Regions from separate parts of the Homo sapiens genome. Here region 1 is linked to region 2. Evidence: fine-mapped expression QTL. Tissue or cell type: Th2 cells. Region 2 holds a variant in brackets; the other region holds the start of a gene. All regions are shown on one strand. Distances are between the middles of the regions.

Region 1 (5,709 bases), 330 kb after region 2:
CAATATAGAAGGCACAGCAGGAGCCCCGCCCCTTCTGAGTTGGCGGGGCGGGAGTTCCCCAGATGCCGCTGCAGTTGCCCTGCTGCGGCTCTGGCCCAGCATCTCTGTGCTCTTGGGAACCTGTGAAGGCTCCACTGCCCCTCGCAGGCTCGGAAGTGCCTGCTCCTGCTGCCTGGCTTCTCCCTGCTGTTGGTGCCTGCTTCAATCTCGGAGCAAAGTCGGGCCGAGCTAGGGCGCCGTCACAGCCCAGCCGGGAGTGCACACGCTCAGGGCAGCACTGACACGCCAGCCCCCTGCCTCCTTGGCCCCCTCCGGACTTGGGTGCCAACAAGCATCGGAGAACGGCCGAGGGGGGCATGAGGACAGCCTGGTGTTGGCCTGCAGGTACCCCTTGGCATGAACAGCCTGGGCGCCATGAACAGCAGCAGGAATGCAGACAGCTCCTCGGTGGAAGGGGGCGGGTCCCTGGTGAAGCCCCACCTTCAATCCTGGAAGGGCCTGAAGCCTGGGGGCCAGGTCACCAGTCCCAGTACCAGAGCGGGGAACTTGTGGTGCTTTTCCCCAGGCCTGCTCATGGCCACCTATGGCCGCCCATGGACCAATCAGCACTCACTTCTTCCCCTCTGAGGTCCATAAAAAACCCTGGACTCAGCCAGACTCAAAGAGAGGACGGGTAGATGGGGAGAAAACCAGCTGCAGAGAGGAACTACCCTTTCTGCTGAGAGCTGGACACTTGTTGGGATGAACTGCCTACCAGAGAGGAGCTACCCTCTCTGCTGAAAGCTGAACACTTGTGGGGAAACCCTGGCTATGGAGAGGAGCTGCCCACTGCAGGTCTCTTCTGAAGTATTCTGTTGCTCAATAAAGCTCCTCTTCGTCTTGCTCACTCTCCACTTGTCTGCCTACCCCATTCTTCCTGGATGCAGGACAAGAACTCGGGACCTGCCAAATGGTGGGGCTAAAAGAGCTGTAACACAGGCTGGGTGCAGTGGCTCACGCCTTTAATCCCAGCACTTTGGGAGGCCGAGGGGGGTGGGGCGGATCACCTGAGGTCAGGAGTTTGAGGCCAGCCTGGCCAACATGGTGAAACCCTGTCTCTACTAAAAATACAAAAATCGGCCGGGTGCGGTGGCTCACACCTGTAACCCCGGCACTTTGGGAGGCCGAGGCGGGCAGATCACAAGGTCAGGAGTTGGAGATCAGCCTGGCTAACATAGTGAAACCCTGTCTCTACTAAAAATGCAAAAAAGCTGGGTGTGGTGGTGGGCGCCTGTAATCCCAGCCACTTGGGAGGCTGAGGCAGGGGAATCGCTTGAACCTGGGAGGTGGAGGTTGCAGTGAGCCGAGATCCTGCCACTGCACTCCAGCCTGGGCAACAAGAGCAAGACTCCCTATCAAGAAAAAAAAAAAAAAAAGGGAGAGAATGTGGTACATATATACCATAGAATACTTCACAGTCATAAAAAAAGAATAAGATCATGTCTTTTGCAGCCATATGGATGGAGCTGGAGACAATTATCCTAAGCAAACACAGGAACAGAAAATTAAATACCTCATGCTCTCACTTAAAAGCGGGAACTAAACATTAAGTAAACATGGACGTAATGATGGGGACAACAGACACGGTGACCTACTTGAGGGTGGAGAGTGGGAGGAGGGTGAGGATGGAAAAACTACCTATCAGGAACTACGCTTATTACCTGGGTAATAATAATCTGTACACTAAACCCCCAAGACAGTCAATTTATATAACAAATCTGCACATGTATCCCTGTACTTAAAAGTTGAAAAGAGGCCGGGCGCGGTGGCTCACGCCTGTAATCCCAGCACTTTGGGAGGCTGAGGTGGGAGGATCGTTTGAGCCCAACATAGGAAGACTCCTGTCTCAAAAAAAAAAAAAAAAAAAAAAAAATTACCAGGGTGTGGTGGCAGGCCCCTGTGGTCCCAGCTACTCAGGAGGCAGAAGCAGGACGATCCCTTGGGCCCAGAAACTCAAGGCTGCAGGGAACCGAGATCATGCCACTGCTTCCACCCTGGGTAACAGAGCAAGACCCCGTCTCCAAAAAAAAAAAAAAAAAAAAGCAATACAGGGGTACTTAATATTTATTCATATATTTACCTGAGAATCATCAGTTTTACTAAGGCTGTATGATGTTAGCAGATATTGGTTCTATCAGTCTCTCCGCAGACATTTGCTGTAAATAAAGCAGAGAGGCTTTCAGAGTGCACCCTGTTTTTGTTCCTCCATCCTGTTGTCTGGATCCCCTTCTAAAACGTAAGTTCCAGGATGGCAGGAACTTTGTCTATTTGGTTCACACTCGACACAGTTAGTGCTCAAAAATGTCTAACGACACAGGCCTGCTTCTCGGTTTGCACTGCTCCTCCATGGTAGTCTGTGCAGTGGGAGAAGGCAGCCCGGGCCCAGGGTCCACGGAGAAGACGCAAATCGACAGCGCGGGAGCGCGGACCTTCTGGAGGCGCGCGGCGCTTACCGCTGTCCGTCCTCGAAGCCCCGCCCCGGGGCTCCGCCTCCGCCGGCGCGTGTTCCTTTAGGGACCGCGCGCGCCGCGGCCTCGCTCTGGGGCCGGTACTTGCGCGCCCGCACCCCGCGCTCCCCGCCCCGCTCCCCGTCCCGCGCTCCACGCGCGCCCCAGCGTTGGGGGCTTCTCCTCCGCGGCGGGAATGTCTGGCCGGCTCCGGCAGCACGGCGCGGCCCAGGTCCCCGCGCCCACGACGGGCCAGCGCGCTGGGCCATGATCCGGCTGGGCGGCTGGTGTGCGCGGCGGCTCTGCAGCGCGGCGGTTCCCGCGGGGCGGCGCGGGGCGGCGGGCGGGCTGGGCCTGGCGGGAGGCCGCGCCCTACGGGTGCTGGTGGACATGGACGGCGTGCTGGCTGACTTCGAGGGCGGATTCCTCAGGAAGTTCCGCGCGCGCTTTCCCGACCAGCCCTTCATCGCGCTGGAGGACCGGCGCGGCTTCTGGGTGTCGGAGCAGTACGGCCGCCTGCGGCCAGGGCTGAGCGTGAGCGTCCCCGCCCCGCCCCGCGCCGGGCCTCCTTCTCGCCCCGAGCCCCAGACACCGCCCCTGCGCCGGTGACCTTGGACGGTCAGCGCCCCAGCCTCGGGGTGGCCCTCTGATAGAATAGGGTCTGGGGGGGACTAGGGGCCACAGCGCACCGGGAAGATGCGGCCCCGCGCTCAGGATCTGTTGGCTGCCATCCAAGGTTTCTGAAAATGCGGGAGAGTACAAAGTGTTAATATACCTAACTCTGCATTTAAAGCTGACTTCAAAATTTGTGGCATATTTGGCCTCAAGTCGTTTGTTAAATTTTTAGAAAAATAAACGTTATAAGTTGTCCTCTTTCACCCCGACCGCAGTCACATTCCCACTTCTTTGTCCCCAGGACTTTGATGGGTGTCTTTACCCATCTTTTTTACTGTTGTCCATGAAAGCATAGCTTCCAGGGGTATTTGAGGCCCAGAGAGGTTGTGTGACTTTCTGGGGGTCACACAGTGAGTCAGTGGTCCAGGTGAGGTGGGATCCACCTCATGTCTTATCCCCTTGCAGAGCTGGCCTTGCTGAACACCTGAGCTCAACCCCTACCATCCGACTCCCGAGGTGTTCTGTCCAGGATGGATAGAGGGGAAAGATCCAAGGAGGGACGTTTACACACAGATCTTGGTTGGTAAATTTGAAGTATTTTGCAAAAGGAACAGGGGATTTTGGTATGCACAAAATTAAAGAGGCTGAGTGTTTTTTGGCATCCCTTGATTGGCCACCTAGGGTTGCTGCTGGAGGGTTTGATAAAGAGGAGAAGGAAGTTACAAGAGCCCGTTTTTTAGCCACAAGTTCACTGCATCCTCTCTTTTGTTGGGTAGATATTATTATCTCTGTTTTCCAGATGAGGAAACTTGCCCCAAGTCACATGCTGCTCAGGGGCTCAGTCAGGACTCAAACCCAAGTCTGTCTGCCTCCCAAGCACAGTTAGTGCTCCCCACTCCACAGTCCTGTTCTCTGTACTACTGTCTCTAACAAGTGACATTTCTTCTGACATCAGAAAGATGCCTCATCAGTAATGTGGTTTGTTGAGGGACAGGTGTTAAAAAAGGAAACCAAGTACCGTTTGTCTCCATCAACACCAGGCACTTCAGAAGGTGACTTTCACAGAGCCCAGTGTGCTGAGCTCTTCTACAGCGGATGCCTAATGATAAACTTTAAACTGGAGAAAATGCCCTGGTACTTTCTGCAGCCTCAGGAATAGGCTCCAGTGTGTGGCGAGTGTTCATTTATAGGCAGCGCTCGGCATGGGGAGTCTGGACACCATATATCCGCCCGGGAGTGTATTAACGTGGAAACCAAGCCCACCCCCAACTCCGAAAAGTGCAGCAGCTTTTCCAGTTCTTTGTGCAAATATGTAGGCTCTGTACGTGTGGGGTTACTGGTTTCCAAGCACAAGGCAAAGGCACGGGGCAGTAAGGAGGGTGCCTTGGGAGTAATCTGCTGGCTTCCACTACTTCCCTTCCTGAGGCACGGCTTGCTGCTGTGGACATCCCTGGGCCTACCCCAAGCTGGCCCAGTATCTGTGGTTAAAACAACCGCCCCCCCCCCCCCGCCCCCACACACGTGGCTCCTTATGTGTATGTAGGCATTTCTACTTTTCAAAATTCTGCTCTGTCTGTATTCCCTTTGGTCTTCACAGTACCCTATGTGGGATGTGAGGATCAAATGTGTTTCAGTAATAAGCACGCATTTGCCTAGTCCCTGTGGTTCCTGAGAGTGTTGCTGGTATGCTGTCAGGGCATCCTCCGGCCGTCCATGTGACAGGGTGGCTGTCTTTCTGTAGTGTGCAGAACAGCTGGTAGAGGCACTTCCTGTACTGCACACGTGGGATTTAGGCTCCTGCTCATAGGCTGAGATGTGTCTCCCCTCTGGTTGTCACTTTCCCCTTGCCTGACCCTAGAAAAGGTGCTGCATTCTGGCCCTGCAGCAGAACAGGGGAAGGAGAAAGGCAGCGGGGGTTGGGGAGTGGGGAGGAGAGGGTTGGTGTTGGGGGTTCTTCTCCCAGCTCAGCTGCTGTTTTGCTGTGTGACATCAGGTGGATCTCTTCCCCGTTCTGAGCCTCAGTTTTCTGACATGTAAAATGAGGGTCTGCATTTTTGCTTTGCAACTCTAAAAGCAGCAGAATCCTTTTTTTAAAAATGTACTTATTGGCACCTCAACATATAAAACCGATAAAAGCAGAGCTCTTCTGGTTAATGTGGGGAGGATCCTCGAGCTCCCTGAATTGTCCTTTTACCCTGTCTCCCCCTCCCCCTTGTCCCTCATGGCACCTTAAAGATCTCTGAGTCCCTCCAGTTCTCAAGTTTAAGGACTCTACTACCATGGTAAGAGCTGGTCCAGCCTCAGTTTCCACAATGCTTTTGGCCACTCGAATCCAGCCTAACAAGCACGCAGTTCCTGATGATTGGCCTCAGGTCCCAGAGAGCTCCAGCAGGTGTAGGAGTCCATGGGCCTGACACCTTTGCTGGTCTCTGCTGGATCCCGACGAAGTCAGGTCCTTTCTGGAAAGGGGTTCGAAGTCCACATACTCTCCGCACTACCCCCAGGAAGTACGTCCTTGGGTGTGTGTTTGGGGGAGTGAGAGGAATGAAGAACCACTCCCCCTATAGCCTGGCCATACTCCCCAAGATGAGGGCAGTAAGGTGCTGAG
Region 2 (5,709 bases):
AAAAAGGACTGAAGAACAAATTTGCTCCCTGCCTGAGGTGTGGGACAGAGCAGCAGGCAGAGGCTGTGAATCTAGGCTGTGCCCCGGGTCCATCTGGCCATGGGTTCTGTCTGCACTAAAGGACCTGGGGCCCTTTCATAAAACCTTAGAAACCCACCCTGATGAAAATGCTATACGGGCCGGGTGCCGTGGCTCATGCCTGTAATCCCAATACTTTGGGAGGCTGAGGCAGGTGGATCACCTGAGGTCAGGAGTTTGAGATCAGCCTGGCCAACGTGGCGAAAGCCTATCTCTACTAAAAATACAAAAAATTAGCCGGGCGTGGTGGTGGGCACCTATAATCTCAGCCACTCGGGAGGCTGAGGCAGGAGAATGGCTTGAACCCGGGAGGCGGAGGTTGCAGAAAGCCGAGATCATGCCATTGCACTCCAACCTGGGTGACAGAGCAAGACTCTGTCTCAAAAAACAAAAACAAAAACAAAACAACAAAACAAAAAAAAAGAAAGCTATAGGATAAATATAAATATAAATATATAACAGAAAAAATGGGTGGAAACTGTTATAGATTAAAACATAGCCAAAAGTCTAATGTGGGACAGGCTGATTTGAACAAGTCAACTGAGAAAGACATTGGTGAGACAGTTGGTACAGTTTGAACCCTGGCGGGCTATGTGATGATGTTCAGGAATTGTTGTTTCAGCAGGGGTGAAGGTATGATGCTTAGTTTTTTGTTTTGTTTTTAGGGTTTGTGTTCTTAAGGAATAAATCCTGTGGTCTCCACAACTCAAACAATCTGGTATTTGAGATTAGCATTAAAATGGTCCAGCGGGCATGTAAGGGGGAAAATGGGGGCTGTGCAGGGGCCATGGTGACAAAGGGAATTCCTGCCGGTGTGGCCAACCCTGCAACCTCAGTGGCTTCTGTCACGGAAGGCAAGCCCCACATCCCAGAGGCATCCAGACTCGGGGCTCTCCATGTGCAGGAGCTTGGGGAGGCTGGGACTGCCCCAGTGTGTGGATCTGCTGTGGGCTTTGCACCTGCTGGACCTTGCAACCCCCACGGCACTCAGGCCCAACCCTCCTCACACCTCCCACCTGCCCTCCTGCCCTCCTGCCCGGCTACTCACAGCGCTCCTCCTGGTCCACACGGCTCCGGCCACCTCGCCTGCTCCGGCCCAGGCCACTCATTACTCAGGATGCTTATTACTAGTCTTAGATTTGATTAGTGCTTGGGCTGCACTTCCTGGGTTTTCCCCTCAACCTGTTGGATGTAAATCAGCCACACCCACTCCCGCCCCCATGCCTGTGCATTGGGTCTCAGGAGCCCAGGTGGGTGGCTGCGGCCCAGGCTCCTGGCGTCCCATGGGGTACACACAGAGCAGTGGAAGGCCTGCCGGGCCTTGCGATGAGGTATTGACTATGGGATGGCCCAGGCTCTTCTAGATCTGGCCTTGGCCATCCCTTGGTCCTCATCTCCTGCCCGCCGGCACACACCCCAAGCCAGGCCAGCTCTCCACCCTCCCAGCATCACTCAGGCCTTTCCCTCTTCCTGGGTATACTTATTCTATTCATTGCCTGGTCGGCTCCTCCTGCTCTTCCTTCAAGGCTCCATTGAGGTGTCACCTCCTCCAGGAAGCCATCCCTGACTGTCCCAGCCTGTCAGGTGGTACTCATTCTCTGTATCTCCTTGACCCTCTCCAACACCTAGCAGAGCACTGGAGAGGCTGAACCCCAGGACCGGACAGCCTGCGTTTGAATCTTGACTCTGCTGCATACTAGCAGAAGGCCTTGGTGGCAATTTATGGAACTCTTCTGTGCCTCCATGTTCTCTGTGTAAAACAAGGATGAGGTCGGGCATGGTGGCTCACGCCTGTAATCCTAGCACTTTGGGAGGCCGAGGCAGGTGGATTGTCTGAGCTCAGGAGTTCGAGACCATCCTGGGCAACACGGTGAAACCCCATCTCTACTAAAAAAAAATACAAAAAATTAGCCGGGTGTGGTGGCGCGTGCCTGTAGTCCCATCTATTTGGGAGGCTGTGGCAGGAGAATGAACCTGGGAGTCAGAGGTTGTAGTGAGCCGAGATCGTGCCATTGCACTCCAGCCTGGGCAACAGAGATGCCATCTCAAAAAAAAAAAAAAAAAAAAGGATGAGAACATTGCCCGCCTCACAGGCGGTTATGAGCATGAAATGAGGGAGGGAGCACAGTTACATTCTTAGAGCAGGTTCTTGGCACACAGTAAGTCCTCAATAAAGGCCGTGGAGGAGGAACATTACAGCCCGTATTGCACTGCATGGCGACTGCACTCCTGTGTCTTCCCCATCGTCTGAAACCTCCCAGGGGATGGGA[G/A]GCCCAGCAACAGCCAAAGGCGGAGTGAGAGGAACGTAAAAGCCAAAGAAAGCCCATGGGCCCTTAGGAAGAAACTGAAGGACGAGGAGGACATGGAGAGGTGGAGAGGAAGGAGGGAGGCTGCAGGAAGCAGCTGGAGCAGGGTGATGGTGCACAGAGCAGGAGAGGAGATGCAGACGGTCAGCAAACACAGGAAAATGTCCAGTCTCCCAAAAATCAGAAAAACAACTGAACAATGAAAAACTAACTTTCAGCCATCAGGTTGCAAAGTTTTAAAGTTGGTAACATCAAGGGCAGGGGGGTGATCTACAGAAGCATGAACTCAGGGCCCACTGGAGGGAGGGAGCTGGCAGCAGCGTTCTGGAGAGTAACCAGCCAGGGTCAGTTAAATGCACAACACACACCTAACCCACCCCCCAGAAATTCTCCTCCTCCGTGAGCCTCCTCATGACAGCGAGAAACGGGAAACAATGTAAATGTCCATGCAGCAGAGGATGCCTGAATAAGCAGGGTGCACAGGCCAGAGCCAGGAATCTATTGCACAGTTAAAAGAATGAGAAATCTCGAAGCTTTCAGGACAGACGCTGAGTAAATAAAAGTAGCTTATAGCATGAGCCTTACAGCATGATGCCTTTTAGTAAAACAAAACCAAAAGCAAACAACATGCACACACACACACACACAGTACAGCGCTGTGTTGTCTGTGATCACGCACACATGACTGTGAAGCATAAGAAGTCTGCAAAGACATGCATGACGAAACTGGCTCTCGCCGGGTGGGGCAAGAGGGAACCAGGACTGGGGGTGACCGTCAAAGGGGACTTTAGCCCTATTTGTAGGGCTAAACATTTTACATTTAGGGCTTTTACATTTGTAGGGGTTTTACATTTAATTACTTGTTTACATTTAATTACTTGTGTCAATGAACAGTGACAAAACCATAGCTGGGCTCTGGCAGTGGATTTCTAAGAGAGAGGTAAGAAAGAGATCCCATTGCCAGGAACTTTCTGCCTGTTGAAATGGGCAAGCCCAAAGTCACTACAGGATGCCCTCACTGAGTCCCCCCTCACCTCCTGTTTGCATACCCCCAGGGTCAGGGCTCTCACCACCTCACGGAGCAGCTGGCTCCCTGGGGGGTAGCTCTGATGGTTAGAAAGCTCAGCTCTAGCCTGGGCAACATAGCGACCCTGTCTCTATAATTTTTTTTTTTTTGAGACCGAGTCTCACTCTGTTGCCCAGGCTGGAGTGTGGTGGCGTGATCTCAGCTCACTACAACCTCCACCTCCTGGGTTCAAGCGATTCTCGTGCCTCAGCCTCCTGAGTAGCTGGGACTAGAGGAGTGAGCCACCACTCCCGGCTAATTTTTGTATTTTTATTGGAGACAGGGTTTCACCATGTTGTCCAGGCTGGTCTCGAACTCCTGACCTCAAGTGATCTACCCGTCTTGGCCTCCCAAAGTGCTGGGATTACAGGCGTTAGCCACTGCACCCAGCCTAATTTTTTTTTTAATTAGCTGGGTGTGGTGGTGTGCACCCGTAGTCCTAGCAACTTGGGAGGCTGGAGGATTGCAACACTGGGCTGGAGCTCAGGAGTTCAAGGCTACAGTGAGCTATGATCACACCACTGCACTCCAGCCTGGGCTACAGAATGAGAACCTGTCGCAAAAAAAGGAGGAGGAGGAAGAAGAAGGAGAAGGAGAAAGAGGAGAAGGAAGGAGAAGAAGGAAAGACAGCAAGTTCAGCTTTGTCCAGTGAGCAGACTGTGCTTCCAGACTGTGCTTCCATGGGACTGAATGCTGCTCTCTGCAGCCACACACATTGTCCTGGAGTTTTAAAGCCAATACCTGTTATGCCTGAAATGAAAAACAAACAAAATCCAGCCTGATTTGGGGAGTGGCTGAGAATTGAATGACAGAGTTCCCTAATGTCTTACTGCCAATCACAGCTTGTTAATGCTTTTGCTCAAATGCAGTTTACAGAGAATGGATTTAATTTGCTTTCTATTTTCTTTAATTAGATGGTGTAATTTACAGACAGTGAAATGCACCCTTTTAAAATGGGAAGTTCAGTAAGTGTTCTCATACATGCACACCCAGGCAACCACAACTCAGATCACAACTCAGAGCATGCACAGCCCCCAGAAGGTCCCTCACTGCCCCTTCCAGCCAGCACACCCCACTCCATCCCCAAGAGAGTCACAATTCTGACTCCTGCCACCACAGATTCATTTTGCTTGTTCCCCAAACTTTGTATAAATGGAAACATACAAATGGGATCGTTTCATGAAACACAAAAATAGATTCCCCCTCTGCACTGGCTCCCCCAGAAGATTGAACAGGTGCTGGAGGTTTCTAAAGCTCATTCTGAGACCAGCCTTTTTTTGAGCTGTCTCCCAAGAGGATGCGGGATTCTAATTTTAAGCTCCACAGCCAAGGTGACAGAAGAGATTTAGAACCCAGAGTAGAGATAACTCATATACCTTAAGGTTTTGGACCTGGTTCATTTATATATGTATAATTAGCGAGTTAAAATGCACACATAGTAAAGAAAAAAATTCAAGCAGTAAAAGAATATGGCGGAAGTAAATTTCTCTCCTGTCTGGTTATCCTAGGCCCATGATGTCCCTACTCAAAGGCGGCAACCCTTAGTGGACCTTGTTCATACAGCCTCCCAGCAAAGCCTAGGCATTTCTGAGCATGTGCGTGTCGCTAGAGGATATATTTCACCTCTCCCTCCCCCTCCATACCTTTTTTTTTTTTTTTTAACACAACTGCTGGCTTATACAGATCAAGGTTGCTGTTTAGCATGCCACCTTTTCCATTTAGTATAGCCTGCCGGACAGTTCTTAGCTTTTGAAATGAACTCCTACAGTGATCATTGGGAGTAACAACAGGGAAAACTTAGGGCACTGTTCTAAACACGTAACATCTGCTCATTTAATTCACATTTTACCGTCTTTGTCACCTTGAGGGGCATGAGCTCCTTAAGTTAAATTGTTTGAAGAAAGGCAACACTGGCCTGTTGATCAATATTTCCCAGGGAGATGGTTCCACTCTGCACTAGCATGTCCGTGGTATTTTGGCCCTAAAGACCCACATCCCTGCAGGTGCTGTGGTCTCTTTGAGCTCCCTCATGTCTGCCACCTACTCCTGGTCCCTTGAGGCCCTGCTGTTGAACCTCCTCTGAGACAGTTCTGGGTGTAAAACAAAAGGAAGAGTCTCCAAAAGAGGACATTTCTTAGACATGCAGCGAAAGCCCTCATTTTCATTATTGCCATTTACATAGATGACTCAGATGTGCTGAATTTCCTGTTGCTAATGTAGCTGTACATTTGTGCTAATTTCTCAGAAATGCTAGATACC

Evidence for each region. PIP is the estimated chance that this variant, and not a neighbour inherited with it, causes the effect.
Region 1: it holds the start of NT5M, and the variant in region 2 is fine-mapped to the expression of NT5M in Th2 cells (Schmiedel 2018, PIP 0.95).

What each region holds. Positions count from the first base shown.
Region 1 is chr17:17,300,798-17,306,506 of GRCh38, forward strand. NT5M (5',3'-nucleotidase, mitochondrial) reads left to right here and starts at 2,576. Exons shown (of 5, transcript NM_020201.4): 1 at 2,576-3,020. The coding sequence starts at 2,754. RefSeq lists an enhancer at 1-532 and silencers at 2,506-2,675, 2,726-2,825, 2,956-3,145.
Region 2 is chr17:16,970,889-16,976,597 of GRCh38, forward strand. It overlaps TNFRSF13B (TNF receptor superfamily member 13B), which reads right to left and starts at 1,230. Exons shown (of 5, transcript NM_012452.3): 1 at 1,127-1,230. The coding sequence starts at 1,187. It overlaps LOC284191 (a long non-coding RNA gene), which reads right to left. Exons shown (of 3, transcript NR_148948.1): 3 at 5,111-5,709. RefSeq lists enhancers at 2,662-2,831, 2,902-2,951, 5,000-5,129. The variant G/A (reference allele first, on the strand shown) is at 2,349.